3 linked regions of the Homo sapiens genome follow. The protein of the gene in region 2 purifies or fractionates together with the protein of the main gene of each other region. This does not show direct contact. Each region holds a gene or a part of one and is shown on either strand. Other genes may lie near its edges.

Region 1 (7,512 bases), on a different chromosome or scaffold from region 2:
GGTTCAGAACTCAAGAGGTCACATGCCCCTCTGGTGACACAAACCCTTTCTACCTTTTCATCCACTACCTGCCCAGAGATGATAACTTGGAATCTGCAAGCCAAAAATTTTAAGTTAGAATTTTAAAAGAAAGTAGTTTTATTCCCTTCTCTACTAAAAATACAAAAATTAGCCGGGCGGGCGCCTGTAGTCCCAGCTACTCAGGAGGCTGAGGCAGGAGAATCACTTGAACCCAGGAGGCGGAGGTTGCAGTGAGCCACTGCACTACAGCCTGGGCAACAGAGCAAGACTCTGTCTCAAAAAAAAAAAAAAAAAAATCAGAAGATTCAGATAACAAAATATAAATGTGCCCTATAATGTACCACTTCCTCTCTCACCTATGGCATGGAAGGCAAAGGTGCCTTCCCTTACGATTCATTTCTCTCTTTAAAATTAGGGTTTCAGAGGGCCAAACAGCAGTATTAGAATACAGTGAGCGCCAAAAGATTCTAAGAAACTGTTATAGTCCTAGAAAACATAAATCCTCTCTAGTCCCTGATTTAATGATTATTTAACTCTCAGTTTCCTACAGGAATGGAAGCCTAACATTTGGAATGTAGGCCTCAGTAACTTTGTTAACAAAAGCAAACTCTTGATTTGTAGACAATATGTACTTTTTTTTTTTTTTTGAAACACAGTTTCCCTCTGTCACCCAGGCTGAAGTGCATGGTGTGATCTCAGCTCACTGCAACCTCCGAGTCCCGGATTCAAGCAATTCTCCTGTCTCAGCCTCCCGAGCAGCTGGGATTACAGGAGGGCACCACCACACCCAGCTAATTTTGTATTTTTAGTAGAGATGGGGTTTCACCATGTTGCCCAGGCTGGTCTCGAACTCCTGACCTCCAGGTGATCTGCCTCCTCACCCAAAGTGCTGGGATTACAGGTGTGAGACACTCTGCCCAGCCAATATGTACTATTAAAGCAAACTTTTCCCTCAAAATCCCAAAGACTAGAAAAGATGGAAAATTATACTACTTAAATTTTATCTAGAGTAGAATATCATTTAGATACTATATATTGTTTCATATATTTTCCACAGGAAAAAAGTCACATGGACTAATATTGACATAGTAATACAGAGTCATGAAAGGCCATGCAATTTTGGGAGTATAATACTGGGAACACAAAAGAGAACAGCATCTGAGATGCTTGGGGGCTACACAGTAGAAGGGAAATCAAAAACCTAACAATTTATTGGGTATAAATAAAGATGAACCAATTCTTAGCAAAAGAATGTGCTGCAGATACTAGGATGAAACCACAAGGGTGAGTATGGTTCATCAGAGTCAACAGTTTGAATCCATACTAGTATCAAAAAAGTATACAAGAATATGTATGCCAGCTGGGCACGGGGGCTCACGCCTGTAATCCCAGCACTTTGGGAGGCCGAGGCGGGCGGATCATTTGAGGTCAGGAGTTCGAGACCAGCCTGGCCAACATACCAAAACCCTGTCTCTACTAAAAATACAAACAAATGAGCAGGGCGTGATGGGGCATGCCTGAAATCCCAGCTACTAGGGAGGCTGAGACACGAGAATCGCTTGAACCCGGGAGGTGGAAGTTGCAGTGAGCCAAGATAGCAGCCACTGCACTCCAGCCTGGGCGACAGAGCCAGACTCCGTCTCAAAAATGAGAAAAAAAGTAATATGTATGCCATATTGAGGCACAGAGTAAACTATGAAATGGAAATATGTATATGTAAAACAAACAATACAGGATATGTGGTTTGAAGGCTTTAATAAGGTTTAATACAGGTATTTCCTTAAATAGGTGGATACCAGCAGTACCAAGGACAACACAACTATTTTTTGTTGAAATAAGCGGTGTAACAGTACAATAGAGTAAATCTAAATGCACAGTAATGGAGGTACCATGGAATAATTCACATGTCAAGGTATGGGAGAAAGAGCCAAGAAGTTTAATGTGGGTGTTATCATTATATACCGAGGTAGCAAAATACATGGCAATATAATTTTGTAAACATTAAGTTTATACAATGGGTGATAATGAGCATTCTGAAGATATTTGATCCAGGACAGAGGTATACTGAGATAGAAGGATGATATGCAAATGTTAGATCAACTTGGTCAAGATGGCATTAACCAGGAAGTGAAGAATCCAAGGCAAAAAATAGTCTAGCGTATAACGTATATGTGATCCTACAACTGCCTTCCTAACTTTTAGCAACTTTCTTACTTCTTATTTCAGTGTTTCATTTGGCCAAGTGGGTAAAACACTTTCCACCTGCCTGCCCCAAATATAGGTAAAATATTGACAAACGCATTCGGGCTCCACTTTAAAAAGTACAAAGTACTAAACGCATGGAGCACTCGGCTGGTGGCGGTAGGAGGAGGAAGCGGACGGGTGAGAGAGAACAGGTAACAGGATGAAGCTTGAGCCAAAATAAGTATCAGCAGAGTGGAGCGAGGGACTCGAACCGCAGAGCGGTAAAAGGGAAACAGCACCCGGTCCCCACCACGGGACTGGGGAAAGGAGAATCACCCGTTGGGGCAGGGCTGACGACCGCTGAAACCGAAAAGAAGGAATCCACGGCGGCCAGGCCCACCGAGGTTGAGAGAGCGGGCTGCGGGGACCGCAGAGCCCGAGGGCGCAGGGCCGGGGGCGGAAGGGGCGGCGGCTGGGCGCCAGGCACCGGGGACCGCGGTCTCGAGCTGAGTGGCCGTCTCTAACCCGTTCCGAGCCCTGGCGGTCGTGGATCCCCGGCCTCTACTCGTCGTCCGTTTCCAAGGCCCATGGGTCCCGCCGCGGTTGGAAGACCCGGCCCGGAGGAGAAATAGGGCCTTAATACCCTCCCCGTCTTCGGTCCCCCTTCCCTAGAGGTCACCCTCCCCTCCCACCTCGCTGGTACGGCACTTCCGGTTCCGCAGGGACCGGTGTCCTCCGCACTCACCCGCGAGCCCGGTGCCCGTCACCACCGCCGTCGTTGTCACCGCCGCCTCCCGGCAGTGCCGTCCTGCCTCAGAGAAGCAGCGCGCGGCCCCCGCACGCTCCACGCCCGCCCCGCTGCCGCGCGCTCCCGCCAGGCGTCGCTCGTCTCGGAGCCGGCGCGCGGCCGTTGCCCTCAGTGCCGGGTCTCGAACCCTTCCAGCGTTCCCATTGGCTCCCTAGTCCGGGCTCGCGCGACGTCTCGCGCGGCGCACGTTTGTCTCATTCATGCGGCTCGCGCTGCCGCGCCCAACCCCGCTCACTCTCCCATTCACCCATAGCCCCCACCCCGACTCCGATCTGGGGCGTGCGCGCGAACCCTGGCGACCGCGGCGACCTCGCGGCCTGATTGGCTGCAGCAACACAACGACGTACGCACGCGAGAAGACGAGAGCGCGCACGTAAGGCCGTGGGGTTGCGGGGACAACTAAGAGACAAGGATTGGCCTAATGCACAGGAGTCAGGAATGAGGAAATGGCCAGGCGAGTCTTCCCTTCTCCTGCGTCCTGTTGTATTCCCACTGAATCCAAGCAAAAACCCCCGGAAATAAGAAAAGAATTATGTGTGTGTACTAGAAGTACTCAAAAGCAAGCAGCTACCTTCTCGAATTCAGCAACCCCTCTCCTACTGAGGTGGTACAGTCCAGACAGGCTTCCAGCGCAGCCAATTACCGACGACTATCGCCGCTTCCTGCTTCAGCCCCTTCGCGGCGGATTGGCCAACCATTTGGCGACTAGGCCTCCCTCTTCTCCTTCCCATCTCCTTTTTTTTTTTTTTTTTTTTTTTTGATGGCAAAAACTTTATTTAAAACAATCTTGCTGGAGAAATCTTCAGTCCGGCGAGGTCGCTGGTCCGGGCAGAATCCAGGGCGATGGAATGGTCTGGGCTGTGTCTCCCACATGAAGGGGACGCCCGGACTTGAAGAGCCAATGTAGGGCGAGGCTCCTGCCAAGGGCCGGGGAGGGAGATGAAGAAGAGCAGGCGCCAGCCTTGGAGCCGTAGCGCTAACCGTGAGAGGGAAGCCTAAGGAGCGCGCGACCTGAGGCGGTGGCAGCACCCTCCCGCCCCCGGAGTGCGAGCCGGGAAGTGAACTCCCTGAATTCCATTAGTTTCCCACTGTCACACGTGGGATGGGCGCCCGCATCCCTCACCTCACCCAATCCTAGAATACAAAGCTAAAAGCAAAAGGTTCTCTAGAATAGCTACTGTCCCTGGCGAGCTAACTCTGCATAGGTCATAGTGCTACGCTTTGCCCTGATTAGCCCAAGACAGCTGTGAACCCAATAGCAATGCCCCATGTTCTCTCCCCATTCGGCTCGAGGCTATTTCTTTTTTCGAAAGCAACTCTAGCTATTACATAATGGTCCCTCAAAAAGGTGTTTCACAAGCCACTTCCCTGAAGCCGAGGCCCCTCACCTGTAAAATCCTGAGGACTGTCCTCGGGTTTGGTCTCAAATGTTGCTGGCTTTACTGTGGTTCTGACACTAGCATTAGGCAGTAAGGTAAAAGAGAACTACCTTCTGTTTTCTGGAATCTAGTTCCTTCTCTGACATGGCATATATTATAAGTTCTAGTTTATTCTTGTTAACAGCGTCAATCCAGCATTTATTGCAACACACTTGAGAGTTCTTTATAACGACTTTATATTTTTAAAACAGACCTGGCCTGGCGTGGTGGTTCACACCTGTAATCCCAGCACTTTGGGAGGCCAAGGCAGGCGGATCACGAGGTCAGGTGCTCAAGACCAGCCTGGCCAACATAGTGAAACTCCCTCTACTAAAAATACAAAAATTAGTCGGGCATGGTCGGGGGAGCCTGTAATCCCAGCTACTCGGGAGGCTGAGGCAGGAGAATTGCTTCAACCCGGGAGGCAGAGGTTGCCGTGAGCCGAGACCACACAACTTCACTCCAGCCTGGGCAACAGAGCAAGACTCCGTCTCAAAACAAAACAAAAACCTCTTTAGACCATATGAAAGGTAAATTATTGAAGATACAATATTGATATTTTATTTTTTACTTTTTGAGAGGGAGTCTCACACTGTCACCCAGGCTGGAGTGCAGTGGCGCGATCTCAGCTCATGGCAACCTCCTCCCGGGTTCAAGCAATTCTCATGCCTCAGCCTCCTGAGTAGCTGGGATCACAGGCATGTGCCACCACACCTGGCTAATATTTGTATTTTTAGTAGAGATGGGGTTTCACCATGATGGCCACATTGGTCTGGAACTCCTGACCTCAAATGATCCTCCCACCTCGGCCTCCCAAAGTGCTGAGATTACCGGTGTGAGCCACAGTGCCCGGCCTGATATTGGCATTTTCTACCTGTAAGCCATGTTTCTTTAAGATGAAGTCAGCTTTCATTTTTCTGTTGCAATATTTTTCTTGGATTTTTAGACTTCCTGATTTCCTCCACAAATTAGGCATTTTTATTTTCCTTTCAGCTGTCTAAGAACTTGTAAATAGTGGTGTCTCTTGGCTAGACAGTGCTAAATGGAAAAAAAAAATCAGTCTTCCACCATCCAACCAAACTAAACTCCCCTGGGATACTAACTTGGATTGCCAAGCTTTGTTAGGTGGATGAGCACTAACAGAGGTATAATCACTATCCCAAAGTTGAAAGACAGAGATTCCACTTGTCCAGTTTTCCTTGGGATCACTCAAGATATTTCTTGGAAAGAACGTTTAATAGAACATATGGTTTAAAGTGCCAGCTACTTCTGAAAAGTATCCAGAGTAAAATCTAGGCTAAAACAGTATGATATCCAGACCACCCAAACTTTAAATTACTTTAATATGTTAATGGCTTCTCTCATCTGCGCATCTTTGTTCATCTTGCTCACCACACTCTTCGGCTGCCTGGACTTAGACCCTCAGTAGCATGGGCACCTAAGCACACAGAAAGCTAGAACATGCATTTCCCAATTTTTGTGTTTTTAGGGTTTCACCATGTTGGCCAGGGTAGTCTCCAACTGCTGAGCTCAAGTGATCTGCCTGCCTCGACCTCCCAAAGTGCTGGGATTACAGGTCTGAGCCACTGCTCCTGGTCAACCTCTTTGTGTTTAAATACTGCTCTTTCCTCCTGTCCTTGTGAAATGTCTCTGTATGTGTTAAAGGGTAGTTCTTCCCTTTGTGCTGTGGATCCTATCTCCTTCGCTCCTGCATTTTTTCTGGTGCTGGGGGATGGAGTCTTGCTCTGTTACCCAGGCTGGAGTGCAGTGACGCGATCTCAGCTCACTGCAACCTCCGCCACCCATGGACAATTAATAGCTCATATTTAACACTGCCAAAAACCTCGAGTTTCCCTTGTCCCTCAGGGGGACAACTCCCTGAGTTTTCCCAATCTCATGTCTAACCTAGTGTGTCTTGTTAAAAAAAATCCAGGATGCATCCTTGATTCCATCGTTTTCCTCACCACTCCGTTATGAAGTCCTGCCTTCAGAATATCCTCTCACCAGCTCTACCTCTGCTGCCCTAGTATTTCATCCCCCACCATTTCTCACATTTGCACTTTTACAAAACTCTCCTAATTACTGTCCTTGCTTTTACACTTGCCCTATAACCCACTCTCCACAAAGCAGTGATCTTTTCAAAATGTAAAGTAATCAGCCAGGCTAATCCCAGCACTTTGGGAGTCCGAGGCGGATGGATCACTTGAGGTCAGGAGTTCGAGACCAGCCTGGCCAACATGGCAAAACCCCATCTCTACTAAAAATACAAAAATTCGCCAGGCATGGTGGTGCATGCTACTCAGCTACTCAGGAGGCTGAGGCAGGAGAATAACTTGAACCCAGGAGGCAGAGGTTGCAGTGCACCGAGGTCATGCCACAGCACTCTAGCCTGGGCAACATAGCAAAACTCAGAAGGAGGGAAGGAAAGGGGGAGGGAAGGGGAGGAGAGAGGAGAGGAGGTGAGGGAAGGAAAGGAAAGGAAGGAATAGGAAGGAAGGGGAAGGAATGAAAAAGAGAAGAAAAAAGAGAGAAGAAAAAGAGAGCAGGAAGGAGGGAGAGAGGAAAGAGGAAAGGAAAGGAAAGGAAAAGAAAGGAAAGGAAGAAAGAAAGAGGGAAGGGAGGGAGGAGATCAGCCGGGCGTGCTGGCTTACGCCTGTAATCCCACACTTTGGGAGGCCTAGGCGGGCGGATCACCTGAAGTCGGGAGTCGGAGACAAACCTGACCAACACGGAGAAACCCCATCTATACTAAAAACACAAAATTAGCCGGGCATGGTGGCGCATGCCTGTAATCCCAGCTACTCGGGAGGCTGAGGCAGGAGACTCGCTTGAACCTGGGAGGTGGAGGTTGCACTGAGCCAGATTGCGCCATTGCACTCCAGCCTGGGCAACAAGAATGAAACTCTGTCCCCCCCCAAAAAAAAAAAGATCAAATAATTACTCTACTTAACTACCCCTCCCCTCTGGTTCCCATTGCTCTTAAGAGTAAAATCCATTCTTAAACCAGGTGCTGTGGCATGAGCCTGTAGTCCCAGCTACTCAGGAGACTAAGGTGGGCGGATCACTTAAGCCCAGAAGTTC
Region 2 (6,885 bases):
GTGGTGTCTTCTCAATGAGACCTACTTTAAGTATCCTATTGAAAATCATAACCTATGGCCACCAATATTCCTTTTCCCACATATTTCCAAATCCCTTTTGTGTTCTATTTTGCCATAGCACATGTCATCTTTTAACATACTGAATAATTATTTATTCTGTTTATACTGTTATATTCTGTTCACTGCCTGTCATCCTTTATTAGAATGCTAGCTCCCCAGGAGTAAGGATTTTGTTCTTTCCTGATGTTCTCCCAGCTAAGAGGCCCTGGAACATGGAGACATGCAATAAATTATTTGTTTAATGAATGACTAAATGGTAACACTCCAATTCCAACTCCAATTTCAATATCAAGTGCTCCTGTAACCTCATAAGTCAAACTGAACATTTTACAATGAATTTTAACCAACTTTCTCTCCTTTCCTTCCAAATTATCTTTTTTTCCAGATACAGTGACATATTATCATCCTTTTGATATATCATAACTCAAGCCTGTTCTGCTATGATTTGAATACAATGCTTCCCCACTAAGGGGCCAACAGAAGTAGTCATAAATAAACTGTAAAGTTGTTCCTTACAAAGAGTTCTAAAGCTACCATTTTAATAACTGGAAATCAAAATCTTTAAGTGTTAAATAAGAATGCCTGTAAAATAAACCTAAAAATCTAGTTTTTGGTTTTTTTTTTTTAACTTCTGTAATACAAATTTCTTAACCTACCAACTCTGCATCAAGATTGTTGTAAAACAGTCTCATAATTACACAGATTAAATGTAGAGCTGGTCAAATTATATCCTCTAAGACACAGGGGCAAATGATAGATATGTATTATAATACAGCTAACCCATAAAAGGACAATTTTTTGAGTTGATTTTCGATGGTAGTCCTTTTACTAGTTACCAAATATTTTTAAAAGTCTTTCGATGTACTTTTCCAACTATTTCTTTATAACATGTGTTAGAGTAATGAAAAGTATTTTAATGAGTGAGTAAATAAGAAAAAAAAAAGCCATTAAGGCTTTCCCAAGATAAGAAAAGTTCCTCATCCAACCAATATTGATGAGTACCATGGTAATGCAAAGAAGTTGGGGAGAGAAGGCAGTAGAAAGAGAAGATACACGATTTATTTCTTTAAGGAGAGAGAGAACCAACAAACCTGCTTACATGTAATTGGGCAATCATTACGTCGTTTTGTCTATTATTAACCAGGTGAAGAAGACAGAAGTTAAAATAAGAGAAATACCTGTCCTTTCTGGTGGGCTATACCAATGCATGTTTTTGGGTATGGTGATACACCGTCTCCACAATCCCACTGTGCCATTGTATCGAAAAAGTGCATCATTATAAGTCTTTTCATCTGCCTCATCACTAATGAATTCATCCCAGATGCTTTTATTCAAATCACTGGAATTTTCTTGAACTGGACTTCGATATTCATACCAGAAGTCTGTGCCAATGGAGGCTGCCATGTAGATGGTGGAAATGAGGCTAAGCACACAAGCAATTACAAATGCTGTAGCAAAACGGTTATCCATTCTGGCATTCAGACTGCTCTGTTTAGAAGTTGAAGAAAGAAGATAAGTTAGAGTTTACGGACAAATAAGAAAGATTATTTTGAATTATTCCAAATGCACCCTTTACCCAATTCCCCATCCCTTCGTACATATAACCATTAAGAATTTTTTTTAGAAAGCAAGCATGTTTTTAATTAAGCTTAAAACAAAACTCATTCTCATAAAAGTACTTATTGAATGCTCACATACCCAGGATGCTACGGAGACAGAGGTCTTGTTCTCTAGTCTATCACCTGCATACTAAAACAGACAACACTGAAATGGACATACACATTACAGATACAAACAATAGACATGCCCATGGTCAGCAGTGTACCGTGCACACATTTTAAATTACAGACTGAATTTTTGCACGAGCTGCAGAGGATTAAGTGTTCTGGGTTTGAGTGTTAAAAAGGCACAGGAAAAAGAAGCAGTGGAAATTGGCTTCTCCCAGTTTCCTCTGAAGAGGGAAGCCTCCTAAAACAAAGGTAAGAGTCAGGAGCCATACAGAAAACAGAGTTGAAGATGTTTGTTAACCCCGAGGGAAAGGTTGTTCTAGGTGTATAAAATAGCAAAGAGAACAATAACATGTAATAATGCTAGATAGCAATCTCTCCCTAATCCATTAAAGCTAAGCCAAGCTTCTTTACGCTGCCAAATGCTTCACTCCTATCTACTCTCCCGATTCCTTATACTTCTGAACCTCCTCAACAGAAATCTTGCTCTCTCCCTAAATCCTCAGTGCAACATACGTCCGCAAAAACTAAATGATCCCTCCTCAGCCAGACAGAAAACTCTCAACATATCAACACTCCCAAGGCGTGGACAGGGCTCAACGGCAGTAGTAAATGGCCGCGGTAAAATGACTCAAGGCAGATCGCGCTGAGTCAAATACTACACGGCAAGTATACACCGTGACCGCACCAAACACCTTACAAAGGTTCATGAAAACAGACTCGCAAACTGGGGTTGCTGAGTTTGGAAAATGGGAAGTGACTCAGGAAAGATAAGAGCAATGACAACGAAAACTCAAAAAGTTGGATTTGTATTTTGATTTTTTAAAAATCCCCCCTTCATCCTGGTGCTCTCAAATGACCTTAAAGGGTCCCAGCACTGGGAACGGCGGTTCGTCCAAGCCGGACGCCTGCAGCAGCCACCTCCTGGGCCTCACGGCGGGGCCGGAGAAGGCCAGGGCTGGGGCGGGGCAGCCGTGCTCGGCCCCGGGCCAGGGTCCCCCGGTACCCGACCAGGCCCCGCCCTAGAGGGCTCGGCCCTGGGACAAATCCGCCGCTCGGAACCCGCCCAGCCCGACCACGCCCGGGAAGGGGGCCCCTCTTCAAACCGCCGGGAACATGGAACCGCGACGCGACCCCTGCCCGGCGACGCAGGTCCCGCTCACTCACCGCCCATCCTCCTGCTCCGCCAGCTTCACCCTCTAGCTCAGACCACAGCACCCTACTCTCCCCGCGCCTCCTCTGACGCACTTCCCTGCAGAGCCCGCCCCCTCCATAACTCCCGCGCCTCCGCCCGCCCCCACTCCGGGCCGGGCCGCGGCCCGGGGCCGAGGGGCCTTGTGGGAGTTGTAGGAGGGACAGACTGAAAGCTGTCTGAGGCGGCGATAGGCATTCCTGGCGCCGCGCGCGGCGCATTGTGGGAGATGTAGTTCAGCTCCTCAGGGCAAGCCGGTACGCAGAAGGGAAGTCTAGGCTGTTGGATTCTTGCATTTTAGGGAGGAAGGGAGAATGGTCCAGAAAGTAAAGCGGGCCTGTTTCCGGTCATCTCGAGTCAATGACCGTGACTTGTATAACTTAGATCTGACTTTTAGGCCTGTGCTTTCCCTATCACACCACCCTGCCTCTAGATCTAAGTATAAATGAACAAAAATGGGATTCTACTTGTGAAACGTTGACCCATTTTATTTCCCTCTCCCAGAATCCCTCCCATTGGAGCAGAGCATCCTTCTGGTTTTATTGCATAAGTTTAGGCTAAGAAGTATGTGACCTGGCAGACAGTATCCATCAAGAATGTAATGATATTATTTGGGTTTCATAAAATGTGTTTGTAGCTGCCTTCTTTTTATGACAAGTGATACTAGTTTTCTATTGCAGCAATGTTGTTCCTTTTAAATTCTTTTCACTTATTTTAAAAACTATTAAGTTAATAATACTGAGGATACCAGATATGTCAAAAAATGAATAAAAAATTGTGGGTATAGTAGGAAAAAGACTGAAATTTGGGGAACATCACTCAAGCAGATAAGGTCATGGACAGCATTGGAGATTGCAGATGATGTGTGGCACAGGGGCAACAATGATTCTGAACCCTCAGGTTTAACACAGAAATTCATGGACAGGAAGCAGGGACATCTTAACAATAACATGAGTGGAACTATTAACGTGGCCTGGGACCAGCAAATGGTGGATTTCTCAACAGTAACCGACAGAGAAAGCTGACTCAAGGACCAGAGGGGCTCTCAAACCCCCACTCTGTCCCCTAATGCCTTGTAATTTAGCATAGGAGAAAGATGGGAGCTGCAAGTTGATATTAAATTTCTACCACTTTGACAGATTAAAGGCATGATATGTTTCTCTATCTGTACTTACATTTCTTTGACCTGAGTGGGTGAAACTGATATTCATATGCAGCACATAATAAGGTAGTAGCCAAATATATTCAAACATGACTCTGGATTTTCATATACAGCATATAATCAAAAAAAAATTTGTCAGAGGCACCAACTAGAGAAAGTGATGGAGAGGCACAGGCAAATTGTCAATGTGTAGTAAGACACATAAATGCCCTTATACTCCAGGAAATGTCTTCATCCATTGGCCTTCATTAGAAATCCCCTATTTTCCGCCGGGCATGGTGGCTCACGCCTGTAATCCCAGCACTTTGGGAGGCCGAGGCGGCAGATCACGAGGTCGGGAGATCGAGACCATCCTGGCTAACACGGTGAAACCCCGTCTCTACTAAAAATACAAAAAAATTAGCCAGGCGTGTTGGTAGGCGCTTGTGGTCCCAGCTACTTGGGAGGCTGAGGCAGGAGAATGGCATGAACCCGGGAGGCGGAGCTTGCAGTGAGCCAAGATCACGCCACTGCACTCCAGCCTGGGCGACAGAACAAGACTCTGCCTCAAAAAAAGAAATTCCCCACTTTCAGATTTACCTCTCCACTGAGATCATGTGGTCAGTAAACCAGGCAAAAGAGAAGTTTAAAGGAGAGAGAAGAAACAACTTCAGTCTACAGATAAAGGAACTAGAGAGAGTAACTGACTTGGTAGCAAACTTGGATATTAGAGTAACTGACTACCATGGTAACACACTTGAATATACTCATTTTGTGACTTTGGAGAATTAACCTTCTTTAAGTCTCGGTTGTCTTTTCTCCAAAATATGGATGTTGACAGTAGCATCTATCCCACATGATCATTGTGAAGATTGAGAAAAACATATAAAACGCCCAGCACAGGACCTGAGGTTTAGGAAAGAATCATTAAGTTATTAGTATTTGCAAATATTTGTTGAATATAATATTTGAGTAAGCTTAGTGAGAACAGTCTTTTTTTTTTTTTTTTTTTGTATTCTAATACAGTTCAAATCAGTGTGGCTGGTTCATTTCAACTCCTTCACTACCAAACTAGGAGGCAGGGACTGGCTTCAGTTTTTCTGCCTTCTCTTTTTCACTGATGACCAGGGTATAAAGATATCTGCTGCATCGAACTTTAAACTTCACATTGTCCTTATTTTTCTTGATCTTGACAGATTCAGCATCCTTTCATTGGGCTGTGAACAGAAAGTCCTTGATTTCCTCAATTTTCGGAGGCATGGCGACAAGGCACGCAGGGAGCAGGCGCGGACCGGGACAGCGTGCGGCGACCGGGAAAAACAGGACAGAAAAAGACAGACAGCTTTTAAAGCTCCTGGATTAACCCTAGAGGCTACCCCTAAATGGAGATAAGCCATTTATACAGAGAGGTGTTCCTGCTCGCTTCAGCAGGTTTGAGAAGCTCTGGACTAACCACCAAATGACTAGGAAAAATTTGCCAGGGCTAGTATTTTGGGCATCCCTGTTTAACCCTTCTCAGGAGATTCCCAGGCCTGGGATCGTATCATACACAAGTCGCCATGACTCAGGAGGTGGATGTTTCTGGGAAGACCTGCAAAGGAGGATGACACTTGCACCCTTCAAGTCTTCAGAATGCCTAGAAAACACTCAGGACGCATTTCACTGACCAACCTAGTGTGAACCTGGAGGTGTCTCTACGTGTTTGTGGTTTTGATCATCCTGAGAGAGGACCTGAACGGCCTCTTCACACCCAGTTTCACCAACCACACAACCGTATTTCTGGTTTATCTCTGCATCTTTGGTGTTTCCTAATTTCTATTTATGCTTGCTTGTTGTATGAGTAGGTAAAATAAATCCTTAATTAATTAATGGAGCTAAATTTCTACTTCTGCTTCTTACTCTGCTGTTTGAGAAACGGTAGCTAGCCTTATATTTTCACAAATATGAAAGATGATTTTGTGCAACCATGTAGAGATTATGGAATTTAGGTTTAAAAGCGAAGTTAAATGAGACATCTAGCTTAACTTGTTAAAGATGGTTCTAGTTTCAACCGGAAGGCATTATAGTTATAGCACATTTAAAATAAAACCGATAACTGAAAATCTAGATACTCAGATGTTGTAACTTGTTTTTATTATGTACTTATGAAACAACCCTTCACACTAGAATTTCCATCAATACTAAATTCCCCAATACATTTAATATTTTATTTTTAATTGCACATTTTTAGGAACTAAAAGTTATATCTACATTATAAGATATATTTACATTATGTTTCTTCATGTAATTTTTTTTCTGGTTGTTTCCCTTGTGAACTTTGGAGTTCAGAAAGGAAAAAAATGGGAATATGTACAATTCTGGGTTCCAACCAAAAACCATTTTTAAAAATGTACCTATCTTTGAATTTCCTTGCACCCATTCACTGTAGAACAATAACAGAATCAAGATCAAGGCAAATAGAAAAGTGCACCTAAAATGTCTCCTTTTTTTTTTTAGTAATTCCTGTAAAGTGCCACATATAGTAAAAAACTATAATTTTTAGATGCCCATGCTTCTGAAAGACAGTGAATGACCCATATGTAAATGAGAAGTTTAAGTTTAAATTATCCTTTATTTAAAAATTATCAATGGATCTTTGGTTAATGACCCCTTTCTGGACCCTAGGGTCCTCTTTAGTAAAACAGTTGTACTAATGATCATTAACACCACTTGAAGCTCTAAAATTTTACAGTTTATAATTCTACTGGAAGAAGAATAATGCAACT
Region 3 (6,880 bases), on a different chromosome or scaffold from region 2:
ATTCTTCTACCCAGACCAAGGGTAACTAAGATATCTGTATTTTAAGGCTAATGAGAATAAAGTTTCCTTTAAGGAATTGTTCTGGCAACAAATCGCTTAAGCATCAAAGTATTACATTCTAAAAGGCAGCAGAGAAAATGAACTTGTTAACAGACAGAACCTATCCTACTCCCAAATTAAAGGGCACAAATGTGTGTGTATTTTTAAAAAATGCTTTAAAATAATACAAAACACTTGCATATTAGTCACTTTCTCTATTATGTTGCCAAGTGTGATGTTCTCACAAAAGGAAAATCAGCTCCAATAGCAGAGCAATCAGTAAAATTTCTAGGGTAAGTAGTAGAGAAACAGAAACCTTTCAATTTTTCATCAAAGCAAGGAAAGTTTAAACCTGTAATTTAAATTTAATCTCAACACACATACACAGACAATCAAAGCTTTTCTAGTGGTTTAAAGCATAAGCTAGTGTTTTAACCCAAACATTTAAAAAGAAAAAAGAAATTCAAAGGCACAATTGAAGAGTGCCATGTAACATTCCATATAGTACTCAGTACCACAAGCAGTTCTGGGCTATACAGAGTCAAAGAGGTAAAAGGACTCCAGAATTTAGAAACATCAATTTCCTGACAAGAATCAGTGGAGCACAGTAACTACATTGTGCTTTTGCACTTAGATTACAAAATAAAGGCTCTGCCACACACAGAGTGGAAGGCTAATGTCTGATTCTGTGTATACACATTTAGCTCAAATATATGAGGTGTAAGTGTTGCTTTAAAACCTTAAAGCAAAGGAATCTTTAATGTCCAAATAATTGTGGTAAAAAAAGAATACTTTATATTCTGATTTTGAAGTACATAAATTGTATGTCATAGTTTCCGTAAGAGGCTTAAAAATAAAACATTTGATTGATTCCATGTATATCTTTTTATTTGATTTATTTTTTGAGACAAGAGTCTTGCTCTGTCGCCCAGGCTGGAGTACAATGGCATGATCTCGGCTCACTGCAACCTCCGCCTCCCAGGTTCAAGAAATTCTTCTACTTCAGCCTCCTGAGTAGCGGGGATTACAGGTGCCCGCCACCATGCCTGACTAATTTTTGTATTTTTAGTAGAGATGGGGTTTCACCATGTTGGCCAAGCTGGTCTTGAATTCCCGACCTCAAGTGATGCACCCGCCACGGCCTCCCAGAGTGCTGGGATTACAGGCGTGAGCCACCGGGCCCAGCCAGATTCCATGTCAATCTTAACATGTAAAACACATCAATTGTGATGTTAAATTATTTTAAAACAACATTCAGTAGCTCTACCCAACTGGCCACTTGCTGAATTTCTACCTCTTCAAACCACTGTAGATAGTTCCACCTATTGTCACGCTCAGTTAACTCATAACATAGTTGACAACATACTGCAGCATTTAAATGGCATTTCAGAAACAAGTCACCTCACCATCTTTTAAAGGCATATTTGATCCATTTGCAATTCAAGAAACATATTTGGGCCATGAAGCTGCCCATGGTTATGTCAAACTGAAGGAAACTATAATGGATCATTGTTGATTTCCCAACCATGGAAATCGGGCAGTGCAACCCACCTCACTGCAAACTGACTGTAAATAACTGCTACACATTTCTCTACACAGACTCATCCACACCCACTTATCCCATGACCAGCATCTCTCAGTCCCACACCCAAGGAATGCCTAATCACCTCTCAGGCCCTCGTCCTCCCTGTCACAGAGGAGAGAGCCACAAAACCTGCTTCCAGCTAACCAGAAATTGATCCCTGAACGGGAAACACAATCTACATAACATGGGTCAAGACCAAAAGAATCTTTGGTTGAATGTACATATGTGGGCACACAAAAACACAGGCAGGCACGCACACACTCCATTACCTCTACAACAAGATACAATGATTTTTTTTTTTTTTTTAAAGTTTTGCTAGGTCTGAAGGGGAAGCAAATCCCATTCTTCCATTTTTGCCTGCAATGTTGCCCAAAGGACCTATATCCTGATGACCATTTTGATATGCAAGACAAAACAGGTGGCTCCCAGTGAATGTGACAAGTTTAAGGCCTTGTTCTGAGACATTTTCCTGTCCAGGCCTATCTAACGCCCGACGTCTTTAAGGTTCCAAGAAAGCCTGAACGCACCGCCTGGCCATGCACCTAATAAACCCTTTCAGCCAAACAGTGCGGCCAGCACAGAGGCAGCAAACACCAGTCACGAGAATGATGATGATTTATCTTGCGCGGAGAGGTAGGAGGATATAGTTTACAACCTGGTGACTGAGACGACCTGGAGCCTCAGGAATTGGCTCCTCATCGCTGCCGACAATAACCCGGGGTGGGGATTTGGGGGAGTGCAGCAGGGGAACACTGCTGGATCCAGATTCCCGGCACCGGGCAACAAAGTTCCATAAGGTCGTCAACCCCGGCGATCGGCCTATATTATTCTTCCTGCTCCAAACACCTGTCTTGCTTAGTGGCTCTCTTCTTACACGTTTGGCCAAGGCCCCTTCTGTGCCTGGACCTCCCCAGAACTGCGGGACCCTCAAAGGCCCGGTTGTCGCCCACACCCTTCCCGTCCCCGGTGAGTCTCTCTCCCTCGCCAGAGCAGGCGTGGGGAGCCAGGTTGCGTACCCGGTTCTCCAGCTCCGCAGGGAACTTGGTCTGGAACTGGCAGCGTGTGCCACTGCTGTAGTCTCGCTGAATGAACACCTTTCCGGACACCGGCGCCTGCTGCGGCCTCATGGCGAGGACAGGACACCCCGCGCTGCGGGGTCGGGGGAACACCAACCGCGAGTCAGAGCCCCGGCCTGGACCCGGGACTCTGACCCGCCAGCCCCTCGCCCCCACCCGCCGCCGAAAACAGCCCAAGGCCTCCTCTGCCCCGCTCCCCTTCACCCATGCTGTCACCGCGGGCCTTAGCTGCCGCCTGGCCCAGGCCCCGCGCCCCCCACAACCCGGTTCGGCCCGGGAAACACAAACCCGCCTCCTCTGCCCTCCAGCTGCTGTCGCACCGCCTTCGCCGTCACTTACGTCCTGCCGCAAAAAGCCTCTTCCCCGCCCCTCAGCTCGGCCTCCTACCTCAGGTCTGGGACCCACCCTCTCCTCCGGCCGTAAAGCCACCCTGCCGAAGCTGCGCGCTGTGGGGCTGGGCCGAGGAAGGGAAATGATGTGGGCGGGGCCAGGGCCGACCCCGCCTTCCGCCCGCGCGGGGATTGTTTCCGGAAGGAGAGAGGCGGGGCGAGCTGTGGGGCTGCGGCCGGGGCGAGCTGTGGGGCTGCGGCCGGCGCGAGCGCGCGGGGGTGTGAGGGGCGGAGTTTCCCGGCTGTGTCACTTCCCTAGTGATTGTGGCAGGTGGTTCCCGATCACTGATTGTGAGGGGTCATTTTCGTTCTTGATTGGACGTCGCAGCTTACGTGTGGGTTATGCCACCCAACTCATACACAAAACAAAAAACAAAACATAAAGAAAAAACAACACCCCCTCCCCAAACCCTCAAACACAAACTGCTCATTGTGTTCAGAAGTAGAAAGCAGGCTCCAAGGATGGATCCATTTGGTCCCTAGACTCTTGAGAAAGGGTCAGGAAGTGAGGACGAAGAACCTGCCTGGGCCCCAGCGTTGGGCGCCCCTGCCCCGACTCTTCTTTGGGGGCGGCGTTCCTCTCACCCCCCATTTCCACCCAGCTCCCATCCACATCCCTCAGGTGACCAAGGGGACAAGTGGTTCCGCCCTCGTTGCCCACTGGCCCTTACTTGACTCAGCATTTCTTTGCAAGGCAGCCAAAGAAACCCCACCTTACCCTTGTCTCCTGCTAATACAACCTGTTAGTACCACTGTCTTTTATATATTTAATATAGTTTAAATATCCTGCCTTTTAAATATGAAAAATTCTCTTACTGTATTTTAAAAACAGCTTTTTCGAGATATAAATGGCATACAATAAACCACACATTTAAAGCAGTGGATTTGATAACTTTGGACATATGAATACACCCATAAACCACTGTCACAATCAAGATAGTAAAGCTCCATTGCCCTGAAAAGGTTCCTCCAGCTCCTGTGTAATCTCTCCCTCCTGCCTCTCCCAGACCCCATTTCCCAGGCACTGATCCACCTTCTGTCACTCAACATTAGTTTCATTTCCTTGAATTTTATATAAATTGAATCATATAGTGTGTACCCCCTTTTTTTGCCTGGCTTCTTTCACATAGACTATTTTGAAGTCCATCTGTTGTTGTGTTATCAATAATTCATTTATTTTTGATGCTGGATAGCTATTCCATTGTATGGCCATCCCACAGTTTGTTTATCCATTCATCTGTTGATGGACATTTGGATTGCTTCCAGTTTTGGGATGTTACAAATAAAGCTGCTATGGACATTCATTTGCAAGTCTTTGCATAGGTGTGTAGACCTTAATGCTTTCATTTCTCTTGGGTACATACCTAGGAGTAGAATGGCTAGATTGTACGGTAAAAACACGTTTAACTTTTTGGCAGACTGACAAACTGTTTTCCAAAGTGGTGACACCATTTTGCATTCCCACCAGAGTTCCAGTTGCTCCACATCTTTGCCAAGACTTGGGTAGTAATATCTTCTGCAGCTATAATTTTCATTTTTCCATGACTAATTATTTTGAACATATTTTCCTGTACTTATTTGCCATCCATGTATCTTCTCTGGTGAAGTGTCTATTTAAAACTTTTGCCCATTTTTTTGTTTGTATTTTATTTTCCTGTTGTTGAGGGGTTTTTTGTTTTATTTTGTTTTGATTTACATCTTTATTGGCTGGGCTTAAGGTCAGTTTTAAATTTTTAAGGCACTTTAATTCTTGGATTTTTGTATGTTTAAAGATGTTTTCCTGAGGCCTTTATACTTGCGTGAGAACTTGGCCGGGCTGTTTTTGAGTTTTGAGTTCTTTATACATTCTGGAGAAAAATCCTTTATCAGATATGTGATTTGCATGCATTTTTCACAGTCTGTGATTTGTCTTTTTACTCTCTTAACACGTTAGGGGTTTGAGGGGATTAGGGTGTGGACCTCTTGGGGAGGGCATTTCTGCCTCCCATAGGTATAGAGTGAAACTCTTCCCTCCCCCCGTATGATTATGCAGTTGTTATTCAGTTGTTTACGTACCATTTGTTGAAAAGACTCTCATTTCTTCACTGAATTGCCTTTGTATCTCTGTTGAAAATCAGTGGGGGCCGGGCGCGGTGGCTCACGCCTGTAATCCCAGCACTTTGAGAGGCCGAGGCGGGCGGATCACGAGGTCAGGAGATCGAGATCATTCTGGCTAACACGGTGAAACCCCGTGTCTACTAAAAATACAAAAAATGAGCCGGGCGCCGTGGCGGGCGCCTATAAGTCCCAGCTACTCGAGAGGCTGAGGCAGGAGAATGGGGTGAACTCGGGAGGCGGAGCTTGCAGTGAGCGGAGATAGTGCCACTGCACTCCGGCCTGGGCTAAAGAGCGAGACTCTGTCTCAAAAAAAAAAAAAAAAAAAAAAAGAAAAAGAAAATCAGTGGTGTGTGTGTGTGTGTGTGTGTCTGTCTGTCTGTCCCTCTGTCTGCCTGTTTTGGACTTTCTATTCCGTTTCATGATCTGATCCTGTTTTGAATTAAATGTCTACTAGTGTTTGTCTCCGAAGTTGATGCTTCCTTACTAACTCAGTAAGATCTCCTAGGAGCTGGTTTTCTACATATTTGTTACTAGGGGTTGAGAACACCCTTAAACAGGTAAAACAGTCTCTACCCTCAAAATTTCAGTCTAATGGAGTGAACGAAGAAAACAATTTTCATACATTGTATATTTGGAGTATTTTCCTGCAGCCCTTGGCCACTGAGACTAGGTGGTAAAACAGACTATTATTATTATTTTTTGAGATGGATCTCACTCTGTCGCCCAGGCTGGAGTTCAGTGGCACGATCTCGGCTCACCACAACCTCCGCCTCCTGGGTTCAAGCCATTCTCCTGCCTCAGCCTCCCGAGTAGCTGGAATTACAGGTGCGTGCCACCACACCCAGCTAATTTTTGTATTTTTTTGCGTAGAGACGGGGTTTCACCGTGTTGTCTAGGCTGGTCTTGAACTCCTGACCTCGTGATCCACCCGCCTCGGCCTCCCAAAGTGCTGGGATTACAGGCGTGAGCCACTGCACCCAGCAAACAGATTATTTTTGAATGAGGAAATTTGAGGGCAAATATAACCCAAGGAAAACCCTCTTCATGTTTGGGAAGAGGATCGATCCCAGGTGAAAGAGGAATCAAAGGACGATGAGCTGTATTGTTATCGTCTTCCCTCATCCCTAAACACACTCATGTGTCTAGATTCTAGTTTTGCCATTAAAAGTAAAACAGCAATTACTTTTGTACCAACCAAATAGCTTCTGGCAGTTACCAGCAATCCTTGGAATTCCTTGGCTTATGACAGCATAACTGCAATTTCTGCCTCCATCTTCCCATGGCCTTCTTCCCTGTATCTTCTCTGTGTCTTGAAATATTTCTCTCCTTATAAAGAGCACTATTCATTGGCTTTAGGGCCCACCTAATCCTGTCTGACCATCTTAACCTGATTACATCTGTAAAGACCCTATTTGCAAATAAGGATCTGGGGTTCCCGACTGACATGGATTTTGGGGGACACTATTAAATCTAGTACATCTACCTTGTAGAGGGTGTCAATGTGATATTGTATGTAAAACACTTAGAATGTGTTTGGCACATAACAAATACTGTATGGTACTCTGTTTTTTTTTTAAATTATTACATCATTAGTGACATAGTCAAATGATTTGCTAACATTAACATCATGATAGCAGCAGCTACTATTCATTGGGCTATTAGTGTTAAGGAACTAGGTTGAGCGGTTTATATGC

The links.
Region 1: the proteins of CLDND1 (region 2) and ZDHHC5 purify together in Homo sapiens (affinity purification with mass spectrometry; 4 studies listed by BioGRID and IntAct, with this or other methods). This does not show direct contact.
Region 3: the proteins of CLDND1 (region 2) and GOLGA7 purify together in Homo sapiens (affinity purification with mass spectrometry; 5 studies listed by BioGRID and IntAct, with this or other methods). This does not show direct contact.

What each region holds. Positions count from the first base shown.
Region 1 is NC_000011.10:57,663,626-57,671,137, reverse strand, and holds the start of ZDHHC5 (palmitoyltransferase ZDHHC5), read right to left. Parts: upstream 3,025-7,512; 5' UTR 2,951-3,024; exon of another isoform or gene 2,542-2,950; intron 1-2,541. UniProt on the Homo sapiens protein: Palmitoyltransferase that catalyzes the addition of palmitate onto various protein substrates such as CTNND2, CD36, GSDMD, NLRP3, NOD1, NOD2, STAT3 and S1PR1 thus plays a role in various biological processes including cell adhesion, inflammation, fatty acid uptake, bacterial sensing or cardiac functions.
Region 2 is NC_000003.12:98,519,895-98,526,779, forward strand, and holds the start of CLDND1 (claudin domain-containing protein 1), read right to left. Parts: upstream 3,009-6,885; 5' UTR 2,962-3,008; coding exon of another isoform or gene 2,955-2,961; exon of another isoform or gene 2,648-2,954; intron 1,810-2,647; exon of another isoform or gene 1,803-1,809; coding exon of another isoform or gene 1,759-1,802; intron 1,549-1,758; coding exon of another isoform or gene 1,531-1,548; coding exon 1,239-1,530; intron 1-1,238. UniProt on the Homo sapiens protein: Plays a role in negatively regulating the permeability of cells to small molecules.
Region 3 is NC_000008.11:41,486,726-41,493,605, reverse strand, and holds the start of GOLGA7 (golgin subfamily A member 7), read right to left. Parts: upstream 3,025-6,880; 5' UTR 2,752-3,024; coding exon 2,641-2,751; intron 1-2,640. UniProt on the Homo sapiens protein: May be involved in protein transport from Golgi to cell surface. The ZDHHC9-GOLGA7 complex is a palmitoyltransferase specific for HRAS and NRAS.